6 separate regions of the Homo sapiens genome follow, and regions 1, 2, 4, 5 and 6 are each reported to be linked to region 3. The links are microRNA targets in miRTarBase. Many come from high-throughput screens and were not tested one by one. Region 3 holds a microRNA gene; each other region holds the end of a gene's coding sequence.
What was found. Region 3 holds the annotated microRNA hsa-miR-660-3p (ACCUCCUGUGUGCAUGGAUUA, at 3,503-3,523, opposite strand). A microRNA usually pairs through its seed, bases 2 to 8, with sites in the 3' UTR of a target mRNA and lowers its output. Matches are read on the target gene's strand: a 7mer-m8 pairs with bases 2 to 8, a 7mer-A1 pairs with bases 2 to 7 and ends in A, and an 8mer does both.

Region 1 (4,877 bases), not on the chromosome of region 3:
TATGGCCACTTCACAGCAAGACGCACAGGGTGAAACTGTGCAGGCCCAGGGACCTTGGCATGAGCAGCCTGAAGTAGAAACGATGATGGCGGAATTCCAGAGGGCTGCTGAGCAGGAAAACCGAAACCCGTGGGCTGTGCTCGGCAGGCCGCACGTTCCTCCAAGGACGGGCTGACACCCATGGAGAGCAGCCCACCAAGGGCAATTGGAAGGGAATCCTTGAGGTCAGCCTTAGACGCTGTATCATCATTAAATGCCAGCTGGGCTCCCCCGAGGGTGGGCATCCTGCACCCGCCGCAGAATTTCTTCGCAATTTCCTGATGGTGTTTCCACCTTCCTCCCTCAGTGCTTCCAAAATGGATCCAGCCAAAGAATTTTAATCCCTAAATATGTTCTCTTAAAGGAAACTCCTGTCTGAATACGAAGCATAGCTGGGATTTTTGCAAAGTCCCTTTTACTTCCTGCCATGCCTCCTGCCTTACGGGACTCGTCTTCTTTTATTCTAGGGCCCTTAAGTGAGAAGCAGGAGGCTTTGATGACCAAGAGCCCCGCATCCAATGCACGGCGTCCCGAGGACCGGAACCTGGGGCCCATGTGGCCCATCACACAGAAGATTCTGCGGGATTTCTACAGGCCCTTCAACGCTAGGCTGGCGCAGGTCCTCGCGGATGAGGCGTTTGCGTGGAAGACGACGTGAGAGCTGAATTGTTGCTGCACGTGCTGGGCCCGCCAATGCCGTCATCATCAGGATTTTACAAATCTCTTTGCGGGGAACTGTTTCACTCATGGTATGGAAAACCCCAGGACTCTGCCACTCTAGGCACACATGAATTATAACCATTTTGGAATTTCCTTCGTGATGTTCGAGAGCTCAGCAATGGACCCCTCACAGAGCTCCTCTATCCGAGGCCATTGGAGACCCCAGTTTCTCAAGAATTCAGCTCTGCTCTGAGCGTCCTGGAGCTTGGGGATGCAGCCAGCTGGCCTGCACTGGGTGTGGAGAGAACACCTAGGGAAGGCAGCCTGGCCCTGCCCGCCTCCGCCTTCTGGAGAGCCTCTGGGTTCTGAGTCAGCAAGCCAGAGGTCATGCCACAGGCCTGGCTGGAACTTACACTTCACGTTCCCTTTTTTTCCCCCTAGAGATGGGGTCTCGCCGTGTTGCACAGACTGTCTGTATTCAATGGCTATCTTCACAGGTGTGATCATACCACATTCACTTCTGAAACACTCTTGTTGCGATCGCTAACCTCACTGGGACAGAGAACCGCAGTCTTTCGAGAATGGAGGCTCTTCATTTTTTTTTTCTCCTTTACTCCAAACTCAGCCCTCCAGTTTCTTCAGATGTAAACCCTGTTAACGTCACTGTTTCCAAAAGGAAAAAAATAAGTCAGTTTTTGGCAGCACCTTCATCTTTCTGACCTCCTCCTATTCTGTCCTTGTGGACTTATGTTTAACATAGAAAATGAATGCGTTTAAAACAAAACCACTTTCTGCATTTAACCAGTCCTGGCTCTCTCTCTGCTGCCTCTTCATACGTTTTCTCAAGAACTTCAGTTTATAATTGGAAGAGAAATTTTTGCTGTTAATGCCAGAATGAGCAACCTCAAGGAATTGAACACTTCTTGGAAAATCTAGGTAATTCAAGCCCTCATCAGGTTTACAAGATCATCAGAGAAACAGAGGATTTTAATTTTTAGTTCTGGCCGGCTACAGGCTCCATTTCTCTGCCTTCCCATTGGAAATAGTTTATTTCCACATTCTCCACTGCGTGTGGTCAAAGTTCCTCACCCAGCAAGGGACTATAGATACTCGTGTCCCAATTCCAAAACACAATGCACAAGCTGAACTTGGGCTGAACGTGGCGTGTTGAGATTTGGAATGAGGTTTCTAAGAGCCGTGTTCTTCATGGAATTTTCCAGGCCACTTGGCAGCTTGGTTTACCGATGGATGGGCTAGAGATCTTGTCGTTTCTTGGAAGTCACAGGGAAGATTGAAGAGAACGCTTGAGCATCCTTGGCAACAGCCCAGGTGGGACCTGGATGAAGCTTTGCACTCAAGTATTGTCAAGGGAAGCTTCCTGTGAACCAAAGTTCTCAGGCCAAGGTCTCGCCCACCAAAGCCAGAAAGTGCAAGCACCCGTCTACCCAGCTCTAACTTGTATGTGTGAGACAGACCAGGCTTCGGGGGTAGGAGGATCTGCAGTTGTTCAGCCGTCTTTCTGCTGGTGTTGTCTTTCTGCCATCAGAGAAGGGACACACAGCCCGTTCGAAGGTGTGCAGAGGGCTCTGAGCGCCAGGATGGCCAGGGCTGTTTTTGCTACTGAAGGAGCGTGTGTCCTGAACTCCCACTTGCAGGGACAGTCCCCACCTTCTCTATAGCCGGCACTGGGAGCAGCCGCCAGCAGGGAAATCTGGCCTGAGCACAAGGATGCTTTAGGGAGAGATCACTTCAGTGTGTGTGTATATTTATTTGCAGTACAGTGCGCGCGTGTGTGTGTGTGTACGCGCACGTGTGGGTGAGTGCGTCTTCTGAGTGGGTTCTGTTCAGTTGCTAATGAGGCTCCTCCGCTCTGGACACAACCCTTTTATAGATTAATTTCTCTGCCAATTAACTTGTCATTTTCAGTACATATTTTACTATTCCACACCAACCATAATTACAACAAGGGATTTTTCTTATGCACTCCTATGCATGTGAATAACATGTGGTGTAATTCTGCTTCTTACAGAAGTATTACTGAAGGTATTATTTCCAATATTATTTGGTTTATTATGCGGATCTTTTTTATATATGCAGTCCCATCCCTTCTGTGCCACTCAATGCCATCCAGACATGGTTTTTCCCTCCAGGGGCCTTTCTCTCCAGAGGGCACTTCGGCTGCCTCTGCTTCCTCTCATTCGAGGCCCGGCTCTTGCTGACAGAATAGGTTCCGTTCTGGGCGGTGGTTCTCGAGCCTGCCATTCAAAACCAAAGCAAATTGGAGCATTTCTCACAACATGGTATTGAAGTTCCTTTTTGTTCTCAAAAGTTGTGACCGTGTTAAATTGTACTCCCTTAGTCCTGTAAGGTATGTTAAGTGAATCGCAGTTACGCTGTACTTTTATTAATATTTAACATAATTAAAGATGGACCCATAAGAGTGACGCCTGTGGAGCGCGTGCTCTTCCTCTGCAGCCAAGCTCTTCCTGGTGCATGAGTGAATCGCAGTGGTTTAGTGTCGCACCTGCTCGAGTTGTGCAGGCTCTGTGTAAAGAGGAGTTACAGCTGTGCTGGCTGCTGAGAGACGAGGTGTGATTGTGCGAGCAACAGGCAGAAGAAAACTCAAGACCAGAGAGAAAAGGATTCAGATGTTAGCAGGGACTCCCTGTGCGAGTCCTGTTGGGGTGTGAGTCAGGGTGGGAGGTCTGGCCCAGCCACAGTCAGGCCTAGCGTTGTCTTCAGACCTTCAAATTTGAAGGTTAAGTGACCACAGGCCTCATTCCGGTGGCCTGCCTGGCCCCTGGCAGCTGTGAGTTTGAGACCCCTGGTGTCTCTGGCACATGTCCTTATTGCTGAGGGCAAGCCCGCAGAAGGAGGTGTGGTGTGCACTCAGGTGGGGCAGCCAGGACAAAAGACCACAAACAACGGAAACTGATTTTCTCAGTCTGGAGGCCAGAGACCCGAGATCAAGGTGCTGCAGGGCTGGTTTCTCTGGGGGTCTCTGTCCTTGGCTTGCTGATGGCTGATTCTCTCTGTGTGTTCATGTGGCCACACACACACACCCCTGCTGCCTCTTCCTCTCCTTATAAGGACACCAGTCGGAGTGGATGAAGGCGTGCTCTGACAGCCTCATCTTAACCTCATCATCTCTTTAAACAACTTTATCTGCAAATGCAGTGACATTCTGAGGTACTCGAGATTGGGACTTCAACATACGAATTTGGGGCACACTTTTCAGCCCATACAGAGGGGACATCTCAGGCTTAGGGCTCTGAAAGCTGGGCCATCCTGAGCACAGCGTGGACCATGGTGGGTCCCCCAGTTCTGGGCAGACCTTCCTGGGGGAGCCTTCTCCCCAGCACCACCTCCCACAGTGGTGTGTTGAGGTAGGGGGCAGGTGTGTCCAGGCTGGAAATAGGGAAGACCCCATCTTTTCCTGCGAGGGTCAGGAATGGCTTTACCCAGCAGGGAATGGAGGACGGGTGGGAGTCAGGAGCAGGACGGCTGGGGTGCATCTTTGAGGGCTGAGGGTATGACCTCCCTCCATTTCAGATTTCCTCTGAAAGCCTCTCCCGTGAGGCCACCCACTCCCCACCGAGAAACCAGCCCTCGGGAAGGATCCTGATGAGGAGTATGCCTCTTCCCCACAAAATGACCCTATTTGGGAACTGAAGCAAAGGCTGTGCTCCAGGTGGAGGAACTCCAAGGATCCCTGAGTGTGGAGACAGGGATTATGTGGGTGACTATTTTCCTGTTACTCCAGAAATCTCACCCTCCAGGCAGCTGTGCTGCCTATGGTGAGGTGGATCCCATGGGGACTGATAGGAAAACATCACTCTGATGAATCGGGTTTTCCCAGTACTTCACCGGGCAAGGTTCCCTGCAGAGCAGCAGAGACAGAATAGGTCCCGTGGGGCAGAAGCTGCATCGGCCGGAACAGCTGTCGGCCTGGGAGCTTTGTGAATTTATGTTGCTATAAAGGAGTACCTGAGGCTGGAAATGTATAAAGGAAAAAAGGCTTGTTTGGCTCACGATTCTGCTGGCTAAGGATTGAGCATTGGGTGAAAGCCTCAGGCTGCTTCACGCCTGGCGGAAGGTGAAGAGGGCGGGCTGCGCAGAGGTCACAGGGGAGGGCAGGGCCGGGGGAGGGAGGTGCCAGGCTCTTTTTAACAACCTGC
Region 2 (4,838 bases), not on the chromosome of region 3:
GCAGGAGGTTGAAACCACTGTAGGTGACAGCCTGGCCAGTGCCTAGTCTCAGCTAGATCCATCAAGGGGGGGGCGGGGGGGGTCCATTTTCTTTTCCTTGGTTTTGCATTGCACAAGCTGCAGATGTGGCTCAACACAGGGACTAAAAACCCTTCCAGTCAACGTTGACGGGGTAGGATGAGCTGCATGCTGCTAACCTGAGTGGGCCATCGAGAGAGACTTAGAAATTCCAACAGGTTTGATTTGTGAAGCTTTAATTTGCAGTCGTGCCTGACCGTAAGCCTTCACTAGAGAGCCTCAATATGAACAAGGACACCCCATTACGGATGAGGCAACTGGGGCTCCAAGGATGAGGCTGCACACCCAGGGTGGCAGAAGAGGCCAGGAAGTGGGAGCTGAGCCTGGGTCTGTCTGATCTCAGATGCCTGGCCCAGTCCATGGTGCAGCCCAATCCTGCAGTTTGCTTTTGAGACACACAGTTGCCTGCAGAGATGTGAAAACCACAAAGGCATCTGATATCCAGAAACTATTAAGAACTCCTACAACTCAACAACAAAGACAGACAACACAATTTAAAAATGGGGGAAGAGACCAGGTGTGATGGCTCCTGCCTGTTAATCCTAGCACTTTGGGAGGCCGAGGCTGGTAGATCACCTGAGGTCACGAGTTTGAGACCAGCCTGGCCAACATGGTGAAACCCCGTCTTTACTAAAAATACTAAACAAATTAGCTGGGTGTGGAGGCAGATGCCTGTAATTCCAGCTACTTGGGAGGCTGAGGCAGGAGAACTGCTTGAACCCAGGAGGCAGAGGTTGCAGTGAGCCAAGATCGCACCACTGCACTCCAGCCTGGGCACAAGAGCGAAACTCCATCTCAAAAAAAAATAAAAAATAAAAAATAAAAAATGGGTGAAGAACTTAAATCGACATTCTCCAAAGAATGTATACCAATGGCCAGTAAGCCTGTGGAAAGATGGTCAATGTCATTAATGACTAGGAAAATGCAAAACAAAACCACAATGACACGCCACTTCATACCCACTAGGATGACAAAACACTAGGATGGCTATAATACAAGAAAAGGAAAGGAACAAGTGTTCACAAGGATATGGAGAAGCAGTAACCCTGGTGTGCTGCTGGTGGGTGTAAAGTGGTGCATCCACTGTGGAAAATTTGTAGGTTCCTCAAAAAGTCAAAACATGGAGTTATGGTATAAAACTACAATTCCATTCCTCGGCATATGCCCAAAATAACTGAAAACAAGTCATCAGACACTCATACACCAATGTTCACAACAGTGCTATTCACAATAGCCAAAAAGTGGAAACAACCCAATGTCCATCAACTGACAAATGGATAATCGTGTGGTATATTCATACAGTGGGCTATCAGCTTATCATAAACATCGAGGACTGACATGCTACAATGTGGATGAGCCTGACAAACATCAGCCAAGTCAAAGAAACCAGACACAGGATGTCATGTATGGTAGGATTTCATTTTTTTTTTTTTCTTGAGACAGAGTTTCACTCTTTTTGCCCAGGCTGGAGTGCAATGGCCCGATCTCAGCTCACTGCAACCTCTGCTTCCTGAGTAGCTGGGATTACAGGTGCCTGACACCACGCCCGGCTAATTTTTGTATTTTTTTAGAGACGGGGTTTCATCATATTGGTCAGGCTGGTCTCGAACTCCTGACCTCAGGTGATCTGCCCACCTTGGCCTCCCAAAGTGCTAGGATTACAGGCGTGAGCCACTGTGCCCAGCCTGGTATGATTCCATTTAAACAAAATATCCAGAGTAGGTAAACCCACAGAGACAAAAAGTGGTTGGTGGTACCCCGGAGCTGGGATAGGCAAAATCACACACGCAGGGCCACAACCCACACCCACTCGGAGATGTTCCAGGAACAATCTCAGGAACCTGCATTTGTAAAAATCCTCCCCAATACCCCATCAGAACACAGAGCCACTGGTCTATGGGCCAGGAGCCCAAGACCTGAGAACAATCCTAGTTTCTTCAACAACTAGCAACATGACTGGGCAACTCACACCCACCTCTGCTCATCTTCTAAACTGTAAATCAGAGTCCATATGGCTTGTATTATTCACAAGGTTTTTGTGAAGGCAAACGGGGGAACATGGCCACCACTGGAAAAAGTGGAAGATGGAAAGTTAGTGATCTGAATCTGAACCTTTCATTAGACATCTCTGCTCTGAGGGACCATCTGTGGGGTGAGAAGAAATTGGGCTCAGTGCTTACCATGTGGAAAGGGAGGAAGGGCTCTCCACATGGGACACAAGGGACAGCCATGAAGGACAGAGGCTGACGAGACCTCCCAGGGTGAGCTCCTTCCAGCACTGGCTGGTACCTGTTGCTTCTGCAAATGTTCCCCAGACCCTCTGCACTCTCGCAGGTCAGAGTAAAAAAAGGTTGGATTCTTTCATTTTAAAAAAAGTTTGAGACAGGGTCTTACTCTGTCACCCAGGCTGGAGTGCAGTGGTGTGATCATGGCTTGCTGCAGCCTCAAACTCTTGGGTTCAAAGGATCCTCCCACTTCAGCCTCCTGAGCAGCTGAACTAAAGACGTGTACAACTGTGCTTGTTATATTTTTAAAAATAGAGACAAGGTCTAACTATGTTGCCCAGGCTGGTCTTGAACTCCTGATCTCAAGCAATCCTCCAGCCTTGGCCTCCCTAAGTGCTGGATTACAGGTGTGAGCCTCCACGCCCTGCCGGGGTTGGATTCTTTTTATTTTTTTAAATTTTTAAATTTTTTTTGAGACTGAGTCTCGCTCTGTCGTCCAGTGGCGCAATCTCAGCTAACTGCAACCTCCGCCTCCCGGGTTCAAGCAATTCTCCTGCCTCAGCCTCCTGAGTAGCCGGGTCTACAGGCGCACACCGCCACACCTGGCTAATTTTTTGTATTTTAGTAGAGACAGGGTTTCACCATGTTGCCCTGGCTGGTCTCGAACTCCTGAGCTCAGGCAATCCGCCCCCCACAGCCTCCCAAAGTGCTGGGATTACAGGCATGAGCCACTGCACCCGGCCTGGGTTCTTTATTAAAGCAATGAATTCTGGATGTCCTGGCTTAACTAGATTAAGAGGGAATGAAGCTTCTTCTGAAGGATCAGTGTTACCACAGCCATTTCCTTGCATTACACCGTCCTTCTCAGGACGTCTATGAGAAGCCCTGGGCAGCCTGGACAGGGACTGCCCCATGAGTGCTGGTGGCTCACTTGGGGCTTTCTGCAGGTGAAGGAAGCAGCCCTGGGAGCTTCTTCCTTTGGCACACAGTGGGCTTCAGCTGGGACTGCACCAATCCTCTGCTAACAGCAACCATCCTTGGGGGGTCCGAGGGAGCAGCTGCGTGACTTTTCAGCAGTGGCTATGGTCACTCCTGAGGCCTGGGAAGAGGGTCACTGTCCAGCAGAGCTGGCCTGCTCCAGAGTGATCTGGACCTTGTGCCCCTTAACACAAGAAGGCCCGACTCCAAAGGCCAACACTGTCCTCTAAGTTTCCAGGACACTAAATGGCCACTTGGTCCTGGTTAACTCATTTCTAAACACAAAGGGGACAGGTCTGAGAAAGTGGCGTTCTCTACCCTACCCTGAGCTCATCTGTTCTGAGGACAAAAGGGACGGGTGTGTCCAGGCTGGTGGCAAAGGCTGCATTTCCGGGGTTTCTTTGCTGTGGACCCCATGTCTGAGGAACTGGCCCGGGGCCTTTTGCTTCTGGCTTCCGACTCCAGGGTTCTTCCTCTGTCTCCTGTCCAGGACGGGGCTCCAGAAGTCCCTGTCGGGAGAGTCAGGGGAGGGGTGAGGTTAGAACTGACATGCAGAAGTGGCAAGTCCTGAACACGGTGGCTCATGCCTGTAATCCCAGCACTTTAGGAAGCTGAGGGAGGAGGATTGCTTGAGCCCAGGAGTTCAAGATCAGCCTGGGCAACATGGTGAAACCTTGTCTTTAAAAAATGCAAAAATTAGCCAGGTGTGGTGTATGCCTGTGGTCACAGCTACTCGGGAGGATGCCTGAGCCTGGGAGGCTACAGTGAGCTGTGATCACACCACTGCACTCCAGCCTGGGCAACAGAGCAAGACCCTGTCTCAAAAAAAAAAAAAAAAAAAAAAAGAGCAGCAGACGATAAGGCTGAACCAACTTTTTTTTTTTTTTTTTTTTTTTTTGAGATGGAGTCTTCGCTCTGTCACCCAGGCTGGAGTGTGGAGTGCAGTGGCGTGATCTCCACTCACTGCAAGCTCCACCTCCCGGGTTCACGCCATTCTCCTGCCTCAGCCTCCCGAGTAGCTGGGACTACAGGCACCCGCCACCACGCCCGGCTACTTTATTTTTTGTATTTTTAGTAGAGACGGGTTTCATCATGTTAGCCAGGATGGTCTCGATCTCCTAACCTTGTGATCCGCCCGCCTTGGCCTCCCGAAGTGCTGGGATTACAGGCGTGAGCCACCGTGCCCGGCCTTTTTTTTTTGAGGTGGAGTCTGGCTCTGTCGCCTAGGCTGGAATGCAGTGGTGCAATCTTGGCTCACTGCAAGCTCCGCCTCCCGGGTTCACGCCATTGTCCTGTCTCAGCCTCCCGAGAGTAGCTGGGACTACAGGGACCGACCACCATGCCCGGCTAATTGTTTGTATTTTTAGTAGAGACGGGGTTTCACTGTGTTAGCCAGGATGGTCTCGATCTCCTGACCTCGTGATCCACCCGCCTCGGCCTCCCAAAGTGCTGGGATTACAGGCATGAGCCACCGCGCCCGACCGGCTGAATCAGTTTTTATACAGCCATGTACACCCCACCAGCCAGCCTCCCTTCACACTGTGTCCAACTCTGTAA
Region 3 (4,877 bases):
TATGACATTCTGGAAAAGGCTAAACTATGGAGACAGAAAAATGATCAGCGGTTGCCAGGGGTTTAGGGTGGGGGAGGGGGGATAAATAGGCAGAACTCAGAGGAATTTTAGGGCAGTGAAACTATTCTGTATGATACTATAATGGTCATGCATGTCATTATACACTTGTCAAAACCCATAGAGTATATAACACAAAGAGGGAACTCTAATGTAAACTATGGTTTACATTAATAATTATATTTAAACTATTATTTAATAATAGTTATAATACATTATAATTATACTATTATTTAATAATAATGTCTCAACATTAGCCCATCAATTTTAACAAGTGTACAACACTCATGCAAGATGTTAATAGCGGAAACTGGGGTGTCTCGAGAATATATAACAACTCTATACTTTCCATTCAATCTTTTTGTAAACCTAAAACTGCTCAAAAAAGTCTATGAATTTTTAAAATATGAAAAGAAACTAAAAGAGCCATTTACACATAAGGAAATTTTGATGCTAAAAATCATCCTGTGTAACACAGAAATCCCCCTAGTAATGACAGAATAGAAATTTTAAGTCATTTAAACCAATGGTTCTCAAACTTCAGTGTGCATCAGAATCACCTGGAGGGCTGTTAAAACACAGATTGCTGGGCCCCACCCCTGACTTTCTGATTACCTAGGTCTGAGGTGAGGCCTGAGAGTTTATTTCTAACAAGTTCCTGGAGGATGCTGATGCTGCTAGTCTTGGGCATCAAGAGAGGTATAAAGTCTGATAAAATAAGACTAAGGCTGAGCAGTAACCAAAATGAGATTTTAGAGTATACAAAAGATAAGGAGCACATATTAAATAACCTGAATCTTTACTGCAGGTTAGATTGGGAGAATCTGGGAGAGAAGAAGGACCAAGGATCAGAATCTATAAGTCCCAAATGTTTAAGAACTTGAGGACTGAAATGGAGTGTGTGTCTCTTTCTGTCTCTGTCACCACTATTTATAATACTGTATTGCTACGCTGACCTGAACACTATAAATTTGCAATGGGCAATGAGCAAAAATGATAAGATGGGGAGGAATGAATAGATCAGCTTAGCTAAGAAGAGAGTAACAACTGAAGAATACTGCTGAGGTCACAGTAGAAAGCACTCAGGCTCAGGCGCTAAGGATGGGAGGAGGGGAGTGAATCAGATCATGGGCACCTGTACTCCCTAGGTGAGAGAGAGAGAGAGATGGAGAGACGGACAGAGAGAGCGATAGACTGAAACAGAGACATGTATAGTCCATCTCTATTTGACTAAAGTAAGGTAATATAAAGATATAGGCTGTTCTCATTTCCATATTGTGTGGGGTGCATACAAGATCAGCAATAAGAAGGGTCCCTTGCTCTTCACCCCCTCTAATTCAAGAAGAGTCTGTAATAGACATCTAAAGGCAGCTCACAGTTCTACTCAGGATGTCCTGGAAGATAAAGGGCAGCTTATAAGCTCAAACTCCTATACATTCTGTAAGTGTAAATCTTCATGAATGTGTGCATCTCCCTGTCCTCAGAGGGGACAGAGTGGGGGGAATAGGAAGACTCTCTCTTTGGCCCCCATCATTTGTGCCCGTCTGAATTTTTCTTCTAAAGCTGCCCATCAGAGAGCACATCCAGTGATTTTGACTCTCGTTTGTCACTGCATCCTTAACACTAAAAAGAGTATCTGTCACACTCTAGAAACTCAAGATATAGGAAGGCAAGAAAAGAGACATATATGCACTCAGTCCATATATATACATATAGGTAGGCAAGGCTCCATCTCATTGAATCCTTGGCTTAATACTTGAGACAGCACTCACATCTAGGTTGGAAGGAAGTGAGGGAGCAAATCAGAAGGCTCTGGTTCCCGCCCACCACCCTGTGTGTGGACAGCAGGTGGGGAACACAGAGAAAGCTCACTGTCTCACTCTGGATACCTGCATACATGGACATTATTTAATAAGGACATTTATTCTAATACACAGACAAGCCCACCAGAGCACCTGAAGTCCCTAACTATTCTGTTCTGTGCTTCCCCAACACACACCCATCACTCAAAAACTATGACAGGGGAGGGTGGGAGGGGTGATGTCTAGGCTCTCTGTCCTTCTTGGTACAGTTGAGCTCCCCCTCTCTGAATCCTTGCCCAGGTGCATTGCATTGAGCCAGCACTAGCACCCAGATAGCAAGGATTAGAGAGGGGGAGCAGGGCAGAAGGCTTGGGCACCTGCCGTGCTCGAAGCAGAGAAGGTTCTCTGTTACACAGCTCTGTGTGAGAACAGGAATGAGAGTCTTGCATTGTGTATATGTTGGGAGAGGGTGTCAATAAGAAGTCCCATGTTGTGGCCCACACTAACTCAGCACGTGCAGGAATATTAGGTGACAAAAAGTCAAGTCTCCTACACATATTCTTTGAGGCAAGAACCAAGTCCATCTTGTGTGATACCATATGCCCACTGCCCTGGCAGCACAGCGTTAGCATGTACTAAGTGCTCAATACTTGTGAAAGGGAGGTAGAGGGGAAGGAGAGGGAGGAGGAAGTGTGACTCACAGGCACTTTGTCTGTCTATGGGCAGAAAAAGGCCCCTCTGAGAGTCCTGGAATAGGTGCTGCACTGAGACAGCATGCACATTTAGGTGGCAAGGATACAAGGGGAAGCAGAGCAGCAGGCTCAGGATGTGCACACCACATATATTTGCACAGGTACCCATGTCTGTGGGAGGGAATAAAGAAAAGCCTGATTTCTGGCACCCTGAGCCCATGTATTCACAGGAAGTTGGATGACATGAGGATGCTTATTCTCCATGAGCCTGCTAGACAGTAAGGTCGGCATCTCTGACAGGTTAGTTTACTGTGGCATTCCCAAACAGCAGGAATTCAGTAAATTTGTTAAAGGGATGAATAAATGAATGGACCAAAAACATGCACACACAAATGACTGACTGAAAGAATGAACAAAGGAAAGAGAAGGGATGGACAGGCTCTGTCCTACACATAGGCAAGGCTCACAAGCTGGTATCCTTGCACAAGCCCATTGCACTGCTAAGACAGCACTTGTGCCTAGGCTGCAAGGCTAGGAGAGGGCAAGCAAAAATCAAAGTCCAGGCACCTGCACACCAGGCATGCATCTGAGTGTGTGTGGCAAGGAAACTTGCAGGCAAGTTTAGATAATAAGGCTCCTTCCTTTCAGCTTTGTACAGAAATGTTTCTACACTTACACATGTGTGTGTGCACATGCATGCACAATGTGAGCATGTGTATTCATAAGAGAATGAGAAGGCTCAATTCCTGACACACCTGTGTCTGTTGCCTAGGCCTGGGGAAGTCTAGGCACCTAATACCTCCACTAGATAGGAAGTCCCGGAGAGAGACACTGTCCATTATTTAGCAGGGTACTCCCAGCACAGCTCATGGCACATCAAAAGTGCGCAATAAACACGGGCTACTTGGATTGTTCAGCAGAAGATTCACGATGACAAGGCTCACCCTCCTGTAATCCATGCACACAGGAGGTGTTTTGAGAATTCACAACTCCGATATGCAATGGGTATGGGAGAAGGAGCAGTTCATTCTTCTGCACATGGGAGGGGGGTGGGGGAGGAGAGAGAAAGAAAGACAGAAAGAGAGAAAGAGAGAGAGAGGAGAGAGATTGATTGATTGATTGAGAGAGAGACAGATTGAGATTAAAGTGTCAGGTGCACGCCTGGAGAAGCAGTGCCAAGTCTATTCCCTAATAAAGTACTTGTTGTGTGTTCACTTAGCCTCATGTGCTCACTGAATGTGTGGTTATGGAGGAGGTGGAGACAGTAATGAAATGATGGCTTCCCTGCCACAGTCTGCATGGACTCGGCATTGGGAACGTACATGAGCAATGCAGGAGCTCATTCTCTTCCACCCTTCACCTGACTAGCTTATCACTGCCCCTAGCTAGCACTTATACTAAATCAGTGATTCTCAAACTTAAGTGAGCATCAGAATCAGTTGAGAGCCTTGGTAAAGTACAGATTTCCATGGTTTATGGTGTAGTAGGTCAGGGATGAGCCCAAGAATTGGCATTTTGAACAAGCTCCTAGGTGATACAGATGCTGCTGGCCCAGGGACCACACTGAGAACCACTGCTCTATACATAACTTAAAGAAATGAAATAATGGGACATAGAGGGGTGATGCAAAGACTCTACACTTTTAAACATGGATGAGATTCCCTCTCTGAATTTTTGTACAAGGCAATGGACTGGAATAGCATTTGTACCCAACTACGAAGAATGAAAGAGAGGGACAACCTGAATAGAAGGCTCGAGCATCTTCAAATCCATTGTGTTTGTGTGTATGTACAAAAGAAACAGCACTCTCTGGCTCACAGGTGATTTTCCTATGACCATACAAAGGTGAAGTGTCTTTTCTTCATATGCATGTGTGAGATGACTGACAAGTAGGGCCACTTTCCTTCAAGCTCTGGTGGCATAAGCAGCAAGTAGAAAGCCTATTGCCTTGCACACCAGACATGAGTGAGAAGATGCTGCTAATGACACTCATTATCCTATGCACACTGTGGCTGCAGCTCTGTGTAAGGGGAGACACACCTTTTGTAGTTCTCTAGCTGAGCACTGTTGGGGGGTTGGAGAGGGGATGATGGGAAGACTCACTCTCTGCTACATACGTATGCATGAACAATGTGGGCAACGGAAGTTCCTTCTCTTAAACATGCTCACTAGGCATGTGAGTATGAGTTCTGTGTCTTTCTTGACCACCCTGTCTCTCCATGTCTGGTGCATGACAGGAGCGCCACCCCTGCTTGTTAAAGGTGGGAATGAATGAAGGATGGGGATTATAAACAGGTGTTCTTCGCTCTATGCAGAAAAGGCTCAG
Region 4 (4,877 bases), not on the chromosome of region 3:
GTTTCTAAAACAGACTGTTTCTTATCAGCTATAAAACAATCTGGTTCCTCTGTTTCCCATTTACAAATTACAGGATTTCTGGAATTCTTAGTAAAAACACACAGGCAGAGACAGGGCACGAAACACCGCTGCTCACAGAGTAAAGAGTTATAATCCCTGCAGGTCTCTTGATCCAATGGGTTCTGGTCTCTCTGTCACTGACTTTTTCTTCTGAATAGCCCACATTATTATTTTATTTTGTTTTGTTTTTTTGAGATGGAGTCTCGCTCTGTCACCCAGACTGAAGTGTAGTGGCAGTATCTCGGCTCACTGCAACCTCCGCCTCCTGGGTTCAAGCGATTCTTCTGCCTCAGCCTCCCGAGTAGCTGGGACTACAGGCATGGGCGTGCACCACCACGCCCGGCTAATTTTTGTATTTTTAGTAGAGACGGAGTTTCACCACATTGGCCAGGCTGGCCTCGAACTCCTGACCTCGTGATCTGCCTGCCTCAGCCTCCTAAAGTGCTGGGATTATAGGCATAGTCCGCATTATTTAACTGACTGGTTCTAAGGATAAGTTCTGATTTCAAAGGATACAAATAAATAGAGCTAGAAGTTCTATTTTTGCCCTTGCAATTCTGGTCAGAAAACTATGGAGAGGATAGCCACATAAAGAATTCTTGCAGCACAGCCACGAAAGGTTTCCCCCAAATTATTTTGTGATAACAGCAAACCTGCCTCCTTCAAAACCTCTTACTCTCTACCACTCTTCAATTACCCTTCAATAACACTACCCTACCTGGTCTTTAAAAAAAAAAAAGGAAAAGAAAAAAAAAGGCAACACTGCTGCCAGGAACACAGAAAATGCATTGAAGACTTGTAACATAACCTCCAGTTTGCATCCCCAAACCAAAAACCTTTTGGTTCCTTCCTTACTAAAGTCTCCATGATGATGTAAGCCTTCACAAGTCTGCAACTACAGAACCAAATACAAGGTCAAAAAATATGTAGACCAAAGCCATGTAGCTTCTCTGCTTAGCCACATTCACAGATAAAATGTAAACATAAATACTATCTTCACTATGGTTTAGATTTTAACCAGGAAAAAAAATGAAGACAAAATCTGGAAATTTCTGGACAAAACAAAAAGCAACTAAAATACAGGTTTCATGTTTAAGTAAAACTGAAAATAAATTTGTCTCAATGTTTTCCAAGAAAGAGATGATTAATTTATGTAAACACTGCCTTATAATAGTTAAAACAATAAGTTATACCTAACTTACATTTTTCTCAAAACATATATGAGCAAGTGCAAGGCTGAAAAGTTATTTTACAATCCCCATTGCAGTCTGTTGTTAGGTCTCTCAATGTCAATAGCTCTGCAAAGTTAGTTACATTTATTTTTCTATTTGGTCTTAGAATAGAATTTATATGAAGGAAAGAAGACTGAGGTTAATAGCTATTTAAGTTTTTGTTATTGATTGATTGATTGATTGAGGCAGGGTCTCACTCTGTCCCCAAGGCTGGAGTGCAGTGGCATGATTACAGCTCACTGTAGCCTCAACCTCCTTGGGCTCAAGTGATCCTTCTGCCTCAGCCTCCCATGTAGCTGGGACCACAGGCATGCATCACCACGCCCAGCTAATTTTCTAAACAACTTTTTGTGGGGATGAGGTCTCACTTTGTTGCCCAGGCTGGTCTCTTTTACCTGAGCTCAAGTGATCCTCCTGCCTTAGCCTCCCAAAGTGCTGCGATTACAGGCATTAGACACTGCACCCACTCTAATTTGTTTTGTTTTGTTTTGTTTCGTTTTGAGATGGAGTCTCACTCTGTCACCTAGGCTGGAGTGCAGTGGAGTGATCTCAGCTCAATGCAAACTCCACCTCCTGGGTTCAAGTGTTTCTTGTTCCTCAGTCTCCCAAGTAGCTGGGATTACAAGTGCGTGCCACCATGCCCAGCTAATTTTTGTAGTTTTAGTAGAGATGAGGTTTCACCATATTGGCCAGGCTAATCTCGAACTCCTGACCTCAAGCCATCCGCCTGCCTTGGCCTCCCAAAGTGCTGGGATTACAGGCGTGAGCCATTGCACCCAGCCATGTTTTTAAGAGAATGGGTCTTGCTACCTTGCCCGGGCTGGAATGCAGTGGTTATTCATAGGCGTTATAACACACTCTAGTTTCTAACTCCTGGCCTCAAGCAATCCTCCTGCCTCAGCCTCCTCAGAACCTGGGACTATAGCCTTGCACCACTGCACTCGGCTTAACATTTTAGCATTAATGTTGCCATACAGTTTTTTGAACCCTTTCCCAAAAGCCAACATCACTGCCTCCCTAGCTAAATTCAGTCTGTTCTGTCACGTAGAAAAATAACAGTAACATATCTTTTTACCTGAAGGGTCAAACCACTCTAACTGGCATAGGAAACATCCTTTATTTTTCATGATTATGCAACTTCTTTACATGAGATGTTGGCATTTTGTTCCTAGCATGTAACAGAATCAGTGATTTAAGATATCAGATTCTGAGTTGTGAGATTTAAAAGCATAAAAGTTGAATTGCCTTGCAGCATTTCTCAAGTGAGAAATACAAAAATGATGTTCACAGCAGACCCAAATTGGGGTCATTCAGCACTAGCTGAGACTTGTTTGCATAATTTCCTTTCCTACCCAATTCATTCAGGCTCCTATGTAGCTTATACAGGGGTGGGAATATGACTCAAAGTGCAAAAATAAAATATTTCACCCAGATAAGGAAGGAGCAAGCTTCTGCTATGTGGCCTAATTGCAGGCCTCAGAATGCCAGCACCTTTTCTAAGTTTTTGTTTTAAAATGGAATGTAAAAACTACATAATTAATATTCCAAGCAGCTTAAGCTCATTAGTTGGGAGTTTAAATTCCAATTCCATAACCATCCTACTGTCATAACTACTGTAAAAAAATCATTAAAAATAAAGTAACAAATGTTATCATAGATGTGAAATTACTTAAAGTACTAAATTTCTAGTGTTGTAAATAGCAGCTAAGTTATATCACTTCCTGACTGCCAAATTAAGACTAAATAGAAAGAATGTATATACACCATTATATTTAAAAGTAAAAAACAACGAAACTTTTTCATATCCAAGTATGTCTGAGACTGTTTACTTCCAACAGCCAAGAATGATAAATTTCAAAAACCAAAAAGTTATATTTTGCGTGCTGTAAGTTTCTTTTCAGGAGAAAACAATTCTTTGCATGCATACCTCCCTACTTAACGGCATTAAGAACTTTATCTAACATCTGGTAAAACACTCCTATTTGGCTCATTTAATAACACCATTAAAAAAGCATAAAATTGAACTGTCATCTAACAACTATAGCACAAAGAAGTTATTCTGGGTACCTATACCACTAACATTAAGCCCATTTATTTTTATGGATGCAGCCATTTTTCCCTCATGAATACTCACTGAGGGTCACACTGGCACTGCATCTTTTGTTGCATCTTTGGTGAAATATGCCAGCCCTACATTTGCATTAATGAGGAGACCAATGGCATCCTAGCCAGTACTCTGTCACGTCATCTATGGCCTCTTTCATTCTCTTCTTATTTCAGGCATCCTGGTATGCTCAGTATATTTAAAGATGGTTCAGAAGGCAAAAACTCTTTGTCAGTAAAACAGATCATGTCCCAGGGTTGCATTTTTTAAAATGAAACAAAGATTAGTCCAAAGAACAAGTACTGTCACTTGTTAGGGTTTCTTCTTCTAAAGGTAATAAGGAGCTTCAAAACATATTATTTCTTGACTAGAGCCCTACTGGAAATCAATGAAAATTCCTCAACCAGCAAACTGCTCAAGTTGACTTGTTTAAAGTTCAATAAGCAAATACTCAACAGGTAAGGGTACAGCCTGACTTCAATCACAACATTAAGTCTTCCTAAAGAGAAGGGGCAGAAAACATCTACTTAAGCTTTCTGTTCAAATAGCTACATAAGGACTCTTGATTGTTCTTTCTTGCTTTTTATAATCATAACTTTGCTCAGAACAGAAAACTTTACTTTGTCAACACATAAGCCAGGCATCTAAGAACAACCTAGGGGGAGAACGCAAAGTTACTCATTTTCAACAACTATTATATATTTAATCACAAATTCATTAGAAAGATAGTATTCATCCAATTAGTCTTTTCATTATTGCTGGTTTTGAAAATGGCCAACAATATTCATTAGGTACTGTGCCATTAACATTGCATTCAAAAAAAGAGAACATGGGAAACCAAATCCTTGCTCTCCTACTCTGCTGATATGCTCTGGTATTGGCCAGAGTATGGTAGTACAAAAAGAGTCTTGTTGTTATATAAAAAGCAATAAACACATCAATAGAATAATGTTCATGGGCAGCCAAGATGAAGAAGATTCCAAAGAGGTTGAGAACCCAGGATAAAGTGTGCAAGAAATTCCAGCTTCTTGGTGTATCTAGGAAAAGGACAGAAAGATCATTTTAAAGCTACATTCCTTCCAATGCTTCTCAGTCACGTTTCTCAGGTCAGGCTGTTTTGCCATTCTTCACAGGATCTGACACCCTTCCCACAGCCTTCACTGCAGCTAGTTACCTAATACGCATAGAAGCACTAAAAAGATACTTACATTCGGTGACAAAGAAATTCAGCATAGTTAGGACGACTGTGTGGCCACTAAACATGTAATCTCCACATGTGTGAACGCCAGTCAGGGTCATACCAAAGCCACTCCAAATGGCAAAGGCTCGATGTAATTTCTCCCATACACTGCCATATATCTATGAAGAAAAGTTATGAATTAGTGCTTCAAATGCTTAGGGAGGTGGGAACTTCCCAACATCCATTCCTATTGAAATTCAAATGCTGAATAACTTAGAAATAAGATCTAAGCCAAAGCATC
Region 5 (4,877 bases), not on the chromosome of region 3:
TTATTAGAGACTGATATAAGTAATGTTTTTAAGAGGACGTCCCATCATCAATAAGTTTGTGAAATTCTGCATAAAGTAGGGTAGATGAGTTACCTTAATATTAACGTGGATGATGCGTGTTCATGGGTGAGAAGTCATGAGTAGGATTCCCCGTCTTTTGACTCTGCCTCCCACTTTGTAAAGGATCTCATAGCGTTAGCACTCCAGAGAGAACACTTTGGGAAATGTCTTATAGGAAAAAGGAAAATATTTCCAGGTTTTGGAAGAATTGTTGGTGAACAGATTAAAGGAAAACCTAATACTGTATGAGTAAGTTGTTATGTATAAGAAAGAGAAAAGATTGTTTTTCTCTTTAAAGAAGTAGCAAACAGTAGGTGTTTTCCATGTCTCCAAAGAAATACAATGAATTTAAAATGCTTTAGGAAAATGAACTGAATGCTCTTCTGCTCACTCTACCCCACACAAAATGCTCATGAGATATCTATTTAGCATCTTCCCAAAGGAGAGACTTCCCGAGTGTGTCCAAGACTGGGCCATTATTGGAGAGTGATGAAGTGATGATCCTTTAATACTATTCTCTGCTCCATGAATATTTCCAGATACTGACCTTGGTGATAACCTGCTCTTACCTAGACTTCCCATTTTTCCTACTCAAGAAAATTGAAAATGTAATAATATTAACTTTTCTCTTTCTCTCTCCCGCTCCTCTCCCCTTTCCTTCTCCATTTCCCCATCCTGTGTCTTTTCCCTTGTCCTCCAGGAACCTTCTGCATCATTTCACTGTGCACCTGTGTGGCCGGGATCAACTTTGAGCTGTCACGCTACCCACGCTACCTGTACGGACTCCCTGATGACATCAGCCATGGCTATGGCTGGTCCATGTTCTGTGCATGGGGGGGCCTGGGCCTCACACTCATCTCGGGATTCTTCTGTACCTTAGCCCCTTCTGTTCAACCTGTCCCGAGGACCAACTACCCTAAATCCAGACCCGAGAATGGGACAGTGTGCTAAAAAACAAACCCATACATACATATATATATATAAATATATATATATAATATACATATATAAAACAAAACAAAACTAAATCAAGACGATGCCAGTGCCAAGGTAGAGTTGAGTTGGCTCAGGCACCTGCATCTCGCCGGACTTTGTGTTGCCTCATCTCTGAGATGGGGAAAGTTTTTCCATCCTGTGGCTCTTCCATCAGTTCTTGACTTTTGGCTTCATGGTCTCTTGAAGACAGAGCAAACACCACCACTTGCGACCGCGTCTTGATCCCCATCACTGGCGAGGATGGGGTGGTGAAGGGACAGTGGAAGGGGTCTGAGGCAGCACAGATGTAGAGAAGGAAGTGCCACCCACTGGGTCAACGGGAGAGGACGCCACCCCTAACCAGTCATATCACAGGGTAACAAAGCCCTCAGTTCCTAGAATGTAACCAAATTATTGAGGCCATTTTCAGAATCACTTCTTCTCCTGCTCTTCCTGTTCGGACTTCCTTCCCAGCCCACCAGCAACACACAAGGAGTGGAAGAGAAAACAAACTGAGAAGGACGTTTTCTCTTTGCTGCCAAACTTTTGGACCATGTTTCATAGGTGGGAAGGGAAGAGAACATGCTGAGAGGCAAGATCTGCATCAATGAAAGGACGCTTCGGTGGATGCTCAGACAACCCAGTCTTACCTTCCAGCTGCCTTACACCCAGTGAAACAAGAGGCCACCCTGTCCCCAGCCGCACCTGCACTCCCTGGGCAGACTGGAGCCTTGGAGTCATGCTGTGATGTGTGTGTGTGGGTGTGCGTGCATGTGTACTTTGGGCGGTTTCCTTTTTTTCTTTTCTACCTTTTAAATGGAAATACTGCATTATGACTGTTGTCTCTCTTATCACTGTAGTGGTTTCATGGCCCCAGATAGAGGCCCAGAGACCTAGAAATTGTCATGAGGGACAGGCCTATAAGGGTGCCAATTCTGCAGCTACAGATCCCTGGAGTGGTGTGTGTGTGCGTGTGTGTGTGTGTGTGTGTGTGTGTGTGTGTGTGTGGTGGATGTTTCTTGAGCGTGGGGTTTTATTGTTTGTGTTGTGTTTTTTTAAATTGTTTCTGGTATAGCTGAAATTTCCAGAGGGCAGAACCAAGAACAAAGCCACTGGGCCAGAGGACCCCCGTGGTTCTCCACATTACAGCTCTGGGACTCTGCACGATTTAGTCCTCTAATTTTGGAAGTTCAAGACACAGCTGGGCACATAAGCCATGAGAGAAGAGGGGGAACACACAGTTCAGGAGAGAGAAGAAATGTTGCTCTGGTTGCTGTTGTACAAGAACATAAACCAACAAGACCTTCACTCCCCATTATAGAAGCTGTCCTTTGTCACTGGACATCTCCCCTTTCCCTAGGGGTGACCTCTGTACAAACGAAAGGAAGTGGGTCACATGCAGAGAGAGCACCTCCATTTCCCATGGGCTCAAGTTTGTATGATATTGTGTAAATTAATGCAGAACTCTTGACTCTTTCCATCCTCTTCCTTTCCCTCTTGATATTCAAGGCCATGAATCCCAAAATAACAGTCTTAGTGGCTAGCACCCAAACAGAGGTGGAATAAATCCACCCCAGTGTCTCGGGCTCATTTGAGCAAATTAGCACTGCAGGTGCTGGCAAGCAAAGTCAGCCAGAGAGTTGTGAACGCTGTAGGGGTGGGAGTCTGCTGGAGTGGGCTGGAGCCGCTCACAGTCATCTCAGTGAGCCTGCTGGTGCCCAGCAGCCCTGGGGAGGCCAGGTGAGAATCCCTGAGCTGGTGTAGCCATGGTCAACTGTGTAGCAGAGAATCCCCTTGTTTCATAAACAAATATGCTTTGGGAGCTTTGCCAGGCACTCAGCAGCCTTTCTTCCACTGCTGTGTAATCTGTTTCATTTACACGTCTTCCAACCCATCTTCCTACCACTCTCCTCCTTTTCTCACCTACTAACCACTTACCTTCTCTCTCTTCTATCTTCCACCCTCATCTGCTCCTTTGAACTGCGTGTATGTAATTCATATCTGGATATGATATGACATCTGATGTGCATGAATGGGGTTGAATGTGGATCTCTCTGTATGTGTATCTCTCTGGTGCATTTTGTGTACGTTTGTGTCAGTACACACCTGCACACAGGTGTGGGTGCCCTACTCAAGACTTCCTTACCGGGGACTCTGGTCAGCTTCTGCAAAAGGTCTCATGTGTGAGTTCCCTGTGTGTGGGTGTGCTGGGCGATAGGGTAAGGTGTGCAACGGGAAAAGTTGTTAGCTTCCAGTTGGGGTTCTAAGGATTATTTTTAAAACAAAGGATTTATTCTATGAGAAGGGAAATAATTTTCAGGAAAACCCAGTTTTTCAATTGGGCATTTTATTTCTAATTTTCTTTGAAAAGTTAGATTTCTCCCTTAAGGGGAAGGGCATACTTGGGCTTAAGGAAAAGTGAAGAAAAGTATCTCAGATTGAGAGGCCTTTTGTCTTCCTTCCAAGCGTCCTGAAGGGGCTCTGCCGAGGAAGGGACAGACAGGTTCACAAGCATCCATTTGGGGGAGAGGGCTTGTCTATGACCACACTGAAATTCCAGCTTTTTTCCAGTTGCAGGAGAGAGGGGAAAAATTCTAAATGGGGAAATTTGCTATGAACCATTTAAACTTTTTGTAAGTAATCATGTTTGAGGATGCTGGCTCACAGACCTATCATTATTTATATCCTCTTTTTAAAAAAAAATCCCATACTTTCAATGAATAGATTATCTGCTCTATCCAATTATTGTCTTTGTGACAGACATTTAGCAAAGCTTACTGCATCCCTTTGAAACCTTGAGAGTTCCTGAAATGTTAGAAAGCTCCCAGGAAAGACGTAAACAACCTGGGCTCAACTCACCAGCCCAGAGCAGGGGCTTTGAGTGACTTCTTTGATAGCAGGACCAGATAAATACGAACACACTTTGGGATCTGATCCTGCTGGGAAGCAAAAGACGCCCAGCCACATGACCAGGATAGAGGCCCCTTTCAGACGGCAAGTCCTGGCCAATGGGAGGACTTCTCAGGTGACCTTGATCCCTCTAGCATAAGGGCTTGACCACAGATTAAAACATGTGACTCCAACCAGTTACGGAAGCTTTCTGGCTGTGAGGTAGCTGAGGGAGATGAGGAGGAGGAAGAGAGGAGCCTTGACTTGTGAGGCTCTGTAGGTCAGACTCTGCTAACTCCAAATCAAAGTGGAACCCAACCTTATGAGGGCATTTAGGGTCAATGACCTCACTAAAGTCACCAGCCGCAACCCCAGGTCAAGTTCAAACTTCTTACTGGCATATGAACATGTATGTGCTTTGAGCTCCATGCAAGTCAACCTTGAGCCTGGGGCCCATTGCAACTTTTATTTCCTTCCCTACTCTACTACCTTGAGATTCAGGAAAGTGAGGTATTCTACCTAGAGAGAGGTCCCATATCTTTTTCTCCTTATTTTGGGAGTTACGGTTTCTTCTTCTGTTTCCGTTTCCTCTCTCTCTACTCACTCCTACTTTCTCCTGCATCAACTTTGGTCAATTAACATAGACAAGTGATTCATCTGTAGAGAGGCTCCTAGACTCCAAGCAGCCCCCTTCCTTGTTCATTGTGGCTGTAGGTTTTATAAGGAGGTCTGTGGCTCCCTGGCATCAAAATATGAAAAATAAAATCTGTGCCTGTTCCAGCTTCAATCCTCCTCCAAGCCTTAGCTTTTCAACAACCCTACCCTTTCAACTTCAGGGATCATGGAGTCACAGAGACTGGACAACTCCTCCAAATCTAGACAAAGACTTTCTTAAGCGCCCTGAGCCCAGGTGCATATCTTCCCATCAGGGATGAGTGGTCCCACCTAGCAAT
Region 6 (4,768 bases), not on the chromosome of region 3:
TCCCTCCGCATGCTCTGACTCCATTCTGGGAACCCCTCCCAGGTTTCTTCTACCTCCTGGCTGGGGGCCCCTTCCCCCGGAGTGGGCAGTTGCACAGGGCCCAGGAGGCCGGGGAGGGAGGCCAGTGGGGGGAGGCTGGGCCCTGGTAGACCGAGGGGCCTGGACAGGCTGCCTGCCCCTGCCTGACCTGGGTGAGCCTCTGCCCGGCAGGGCGGGCCCTTCACTCCTTCCCTCTCACCCTTGACCCCCTGCTTTCAGATGCTGAGCCAGGGAGGCGGCCCTTCCAGCAGCCATGAGGGAAGGACAGGAGATGGGGCCCACCCCAGTGCCCAGCAACCCCCTGCTCCACCGCTCATTCCCCTGCTGGCCCCGGGGCTGGTCTCACCCAGTGCCAACCCGAGAGCTCCTTTTGGAACCTGCACAGCCCGCCGACCTGTTGCCACCTGCACCCACCGCTGGACCATGCAGCCTCGCCTCCTGGATGCTGTCCCAGCCTGGCCGAGGGTCCCAGGTGAAGACTGGAGGGACCCCAACAGCCACCGCCCAGGACGCTGAGGCTCCCTTGCCTGACTGTGACTTGTGCCTCTCTCCTGCCCCCGTGGGGACATGGCAGCCCAGAGCCAAGGCTGGGTGGGCAGGTGACCCAAGGAACCTTTCTGGGAACACCTTCTCGCCGGGCTGGGAACAATAAATGCAGCCATGTCTCTGCAGCTGGTGCTGACCCCATGCCACCTCTAGACCCGTGCGTACTGGTGCAGCCAGTGTGGGGGTGGGTGGCGGAGCAGGGCTCAAGCCAGCCTCGGTTCCCCATCTGCGACCATGCTTGGGTTCTCCAGCCTTGCTCCCAAGTAAGGAACCCATCTTCAGCTGCCTGGGATGAGGCCCTGCCTGTCAGCATCTCTCTTCCTAGAGAGAACTCCTATTCATCCGTCAAAGCCCCTGCCCCAGGGCCCCCTCTATGCCATCCCTTCAGCCTGGGTCTCATGGGCCCTGCCCTGGAGGATCCCCACATCACCCTCATGAATACCTCTGGCAATGATTCCAGGGAGCCCCAGAGCTCTGCTGCAGGAGGCTGGAGTTCCGTGCGGCCTGGGTCCCCATGCCGGACACTCCTCCCCCATCTGCCTCCTGTGGGACTTGGAGCCTGAGACCCCATCCCAGGCAAGGTGCTTAATCAGCTTCCCTGGGGCCTTGTTCTTCCTGCAGGGGCCTGTGTCTGGGCGGAGTCCAGCCCTGGCCTGTCATCCTGTCCCCCATGAGGTTAGCCTTGGAGAGACCATGGTGCGTGGGTACCCATGGCCTGAGGTCCCCCACAGGCAACCTGTCTGGAGCTGCCACTGCCCTGTCACGAGGAGGAGCTGCCACCAGGTGGCAGCCTTGAGCCGCCCAGTCCTCTGGCTGTCTCCTTGGTCCTAACCCTTCATGTGGGAAAGCAAGTCCAGCACAGCCCATTTGTCACTCCACTTCCTGAACCCACCGTGTCCTCACATCCACTGGGGGATGGGCAGTCCCCCAGGTTTGCATCTCACATACCTGCCGACCCTCCCTGTCTGCCGCCAGGGTTGGGAGGGGCTGTCTCCACTGGGGGCCAGGCTATCGCCCCTTCAGACCAGGGTCCCCTGTCCTGGTACTATCTGTTCCCTTGGGCATGTCCGTCTGACCAGGCCTGCCAAGACTCTGCTTACGTTTCTCCTTCCCCTTCCAGTGCCCTGGGTCCTTCTCTGCCCCAGCCTCAGCTGCCGCCTCCAGGAAGTCCTCCCTGATTGCCCACCCCAGCCTGTTCTTTAGGGGAATCCTGCAGGGAAGGTTGGGGAAGCAACCCTTAAAGTGAGGGCAGAGCCCGAGGGAGGCCCCTGAGACTGCAGGTGGGGAGGGCAGCTTGGCTCAGCCTGGCTGTGTGTGGGACTGGGGACAAGCAAGTCACACCTATGACTCGGGCTCTGCTGTTCCCCATCTGTCTGGCCGTTGCGTCTGTCTCCAAACTCCCGTTTGCATCTCTCCATCTGCCTCCTTCACTTTGTCTCTGTCCGTCTCTGTCTCCATGTCTGACCCTTTGGGACACACTTTTAACAGGCACGGAGACACCAGCCCCGGCCCCCAACCCTGTGATCTGTGCCCCCCGTCCCACAGCTCTGAGCGCTTTCACCAGCTTCAAAAGGCACATTAATTACTCTAATGAGGTCAGGAGAGACCCACGCTCTGCCATCCGGAGTCGGAACATGCCGCAGCCCCCAGCCCAGCCGCCGCCGCCCCCCGCTCGAGCAGGGAGAGGGGCTCTGCTGCCTCCGTCCCCTCTGCCTGTCGGGGCCCGTGCTGCACCCCACGTTGCTGCAGAGTAATTGGCAGCCCCCCAAGGTTAATGCACTGTTAGCCAGGGGTTCTCCTGGGCTCAGAGCCGGAGAGGGGCCTGTCAGCGAGAAATGAAAGGCCCCAGGTCCCGGCTGGTGCTCGGCTTGTGAGCGTGTGTGTGCCCGTGGGAGTGCGTGTGTGTGCGGGTGCCTGGGAGCTTGCGGGGGCGGGCAGTGGCTTCCTCCACCTCTCCCACGCAGACACGCAGACACGCAGGCACCCACAAAATACAGTCTCATAGACACACGGTAAGCAACTCGGACAGTTCCATGGATGGGACGCCCGCAGCCCCGTGGGACACGCGATCACACACATGGGTGTGACCTGCTCAGCTCCTAACCCCACGCCGGGGAGTGTCTCAGACCCATGCCCCCCACCCTTGCCCCTCGGTGTGCCCACTGGACAAGCAGCATATCAGGTCTGTGCCTCTGGGTGGGGGGGGGTGGGGGTCTCTGCTTCAGCAGCGGGCCCCGCCCAGGCTGGAGTCCAGTGGACTCACTGCGGGGCTTCTCCGCTTGTGAAATAGGGGCGGGTGGGCGCTGGGGACGTGGCCTCAAAGGCGGGATGCGTTGGGTTCCTTGCGGCGCCGGCTTGTGCCCACAGCTTGGGGCCGACATTCATCCTGGGGAGATAGAGACAGGGCTCCTCTGCCGCCCTGGTGCCGGGGTGCCCCAGGGATGTGGCCCCATGTGCCAAATCACAGTCACTCGGGTTGGCAGGCGACGGAGGGCTCTCTGCCTCTTCTGGGGGTGCTGAGACCCCTGTACCCTCGACTCCCCACCTCCAGGGATCTCACCCCCAGGTGCCCATCTCCTCTGTGGGGGGCCTGAGCCACCACTGACCCCACATTAAGGCCACTGACGTCCCCGTCCTAGGCCAGCCAGCCCCTGAGAAGCACCCAGTGCTTTGCTGTGGGACACAAAGCCACACATGGCTATTCACGTTATTTCATTAAGTTACATAAAACTGGAGGTCCAGGGCCTCAGTCACCATGGGGAGAGGTCCTCAGTCGCCATGGGGAGAGGTCCGGGTCCTCAGTCGCCGTGGGGAGAGGTCTGGGGCCTCAGTCACTGTGGTGGACAGCGATTGGTGGGGGCAGGGACATTTCCTTTGTCTTGGAAAGTTCTGGACGCTGGTGGTGTCTGGACACTGGAGAACGGGTCTGTGTTCAGGCCCCAGACCTGAAGGTGGGATGAGGGAGAGAGGAAGGAGGAGGAAGGGGAGGAGGGAGGGGACAGAGTGGGAAGGAGAAGGATGTGAATGGAGAGGAAGGATGGGAGGAGGAAGGAAGGAAGGAGGGAAGGGGAGGAGGAGGAAGGAGAGGAGGGTGCAGAGGATGGGGGAAGGAGGGGGGAGGAGGGTGTGAAGGGGAAGGAGGGAGGAGGGAGCGGAGGACTGAGAAGGGGAGGAAGGTGTAAAAGGAGAGGGAGAGAGGAAGGAAGGGAGGGGGTATTAAGGGGGAAGAGAGTGGGAAGGGGGAGGAGGGAGGGGAGGGTAGTATGAAGGGGGAAGGAAGGAGGGAGGGGAGAAGGGTGGGAAGGGGAGGAAGGAGAGAGGGAGGGAGGGGAAGGTGTGAAGGGAAGGAGGGAGGGGAGGTGGGAGGGAAGTAGGGAGGGGGAGGGAGGGGAAAGGTGTGAAGGGAAGGAGGGAGGGGAGGAGGGAGGGAGGAGGGTGTGAAGGGAGGAGGGGGAGGAGGGTGGGAGGGGAGGAGGGAGGGAGGAGGGTGTGAAGGTGTGAAGGGAGGAGGGAGGGAGGGGAGGAGGGAGGGAGGAGGGTGTGAAGGGAGGAGGGAGGGAGGAGGGTGTGAAGGGAGGAGGGAGGGAGGGGAGGAGGGAGGGAGGAGAGTGTGAAGAGAGGAGAATGGGAAGGATGGGAGCTGGGGAGGAGGGAGGAGGGTGAGCTGGGAATGGGGCTGTGTGCCTGCTCTTTTCCACCACTGGCTGCAGGGGTTGCAGGAATCTTGGGTCCATGGCTGGATGGGGGTGGGGATTTTCATGTTACCCACTGGAGAAAGGGATACATTTTTATTTTCAAGGACAGCGACCCAGCCCAGGGGAAACGCCCCTGGCCCCTGGGGCTAAGCGCAGACCCCAGCTCCGTGCTTCGCAGGTGGGGGGCGATGGACAGCGGTGGGGCTCCCGCCCTGAGTGGAGCCTGTGACCTGCCCGGGCCCCAGCGCCCCGTGACCCCTGCCGCCTGATCCTTGCCTGGCTGAGATGGGGCTTCTGAAGGCTGCCGGCACCAGGGCAGGCAGCGCATTGGGTCCAATTTATTCTGTAATGAGAAATTCTCCCCGCATATTTTTAGCTTCCTCCTGGCGTCGCGGCCTTTGAAGGCTGAGGGGCTGCGGGACGCTGATCCCAAGCCCTGTGGCCTGGCCATGTGGGCAGTGGGTGCTGGGCACGGGCTGGACAAGTCC

Region 1: the mRNA of CHST15 is a reported target of hsa-miR-660-3p. Seed matches in the 3' UTR shown: 7mer-A1 at 2,189-2,195.
Region 2: the mRNA of TOP3A is a reported target of hsa-miR-660-3p. Seed matches in the 3' UTR shown: 7mer-m8 at 2,866-2,872 and 7mer-m8 at 2,559-2,565.
Region 4: the mRNA of SAMD8 is a reported target of hsa-miR-660-3p. Seed matches in the 3' UTR shown: 8mer at 2,180-2,187, 7mer-m8 at 1,862-1,868, 8mer at 1,702-1,709 and 7mer-m8 at 322-328.
Region 5: the mRNA of TMEM178B is a reported target of hsa-miR-660-3p. Seed matches in the 3' UTR shown: 7mer-A1 at 4,163-4,169 and 7mer-A1 at 4,166-4,172.
Region 6: the mRNA of FAM174C is a reported target of hsa-miR-660-3p. The part of its 3' UTR that is shown has no 7-base or 8-base seed match.

What each region holds. Positions count from the first base shown.
Region 1 is chr10:124,005,969-124,010,845 of GRCh38, reverse strand. It overlaps CHST15 (carbohydrate sulfotransferase 15), which reads left to right. Exons shown (of 8, transcript NM_001270764.2): 8 at 507-3,178. The coding sequence ends at 697. Among named protein-coding and RNA genes, the nearest start is that of CHST15, 85 kb to the left of the region's middle. RefSeq lists an enhancer at 4,772-4,877.
Region 2 is chr17:18,271,191-18,276,028 of GRCh38, forward strand. It overlaps TOP3A (DNA topoisomerase III alpha), which reads right to left. Exons shown (of 19, transcript NM_004618.5): 19 at 238-3,790. The coding sequence ends at 3,612. Among named protein-coding and RNA genes, the nearest start is that of MIEF2, 13 kb to the left of the region's middle.
Region 3 is chrX:50,011,938-50,016,814 of GRCh38, reverse strand. It overlaps MIR660 (microRNA 660), which reads right to left and starts at 3,574; the gene lies at 3,478-3,574. The region is part of intron 3 of CLCN5 (chloride voltage-gated channel 5); the gene reads right to left. MIR502 (microRNA 502) reads right to left here and starts at 2,217; the gene lies at 2,132-2,217.
Region 4 is chr10:75,175,944-75,180,820 of GRCh38, reverse strand. SAMD8 (sterile alpha motif domain containing 8) reads right to left here. Exons shown (of 6, transcript NM_001174156.2): 5 at 4,605-4,755; 6 at 1-4,433. The coding sequence ends at 4,129. Among named protein-coding and RNA genes, the nearest start is that of VDAC2, 32 kb to the left of the region's middle.
Region 5 is chr7:141,469,776-141,474,652 of GRCh38, forward strand. TMEM178B (transmembrane protein 178B) reads left to right here. Exons shown (of 4, transcript NM_001195278.2): 4 at 761-4,877. The coding sequence ends at 1,011. Among named protein-coding and RNA genes, the nearest start is that of AGK-DT, 79 kb to the right of the region's middle.
Region 6 is chr19:1,278,519-1,283,286 of GRCh38, forward strand. FAM174C (family with sequence similarity 174 member C) reads left to right here. Exons shown (of 3, transcript NM_017914.4): 3 at 259-710. The coding sequence ends at 259. Among named protein-coding and RNA genes, the nearest start is that of EFNA2, 5.0 kb to the right of the region's middle. RefSeq lists enhancers at 1,109-1,218, 4,069-4,768.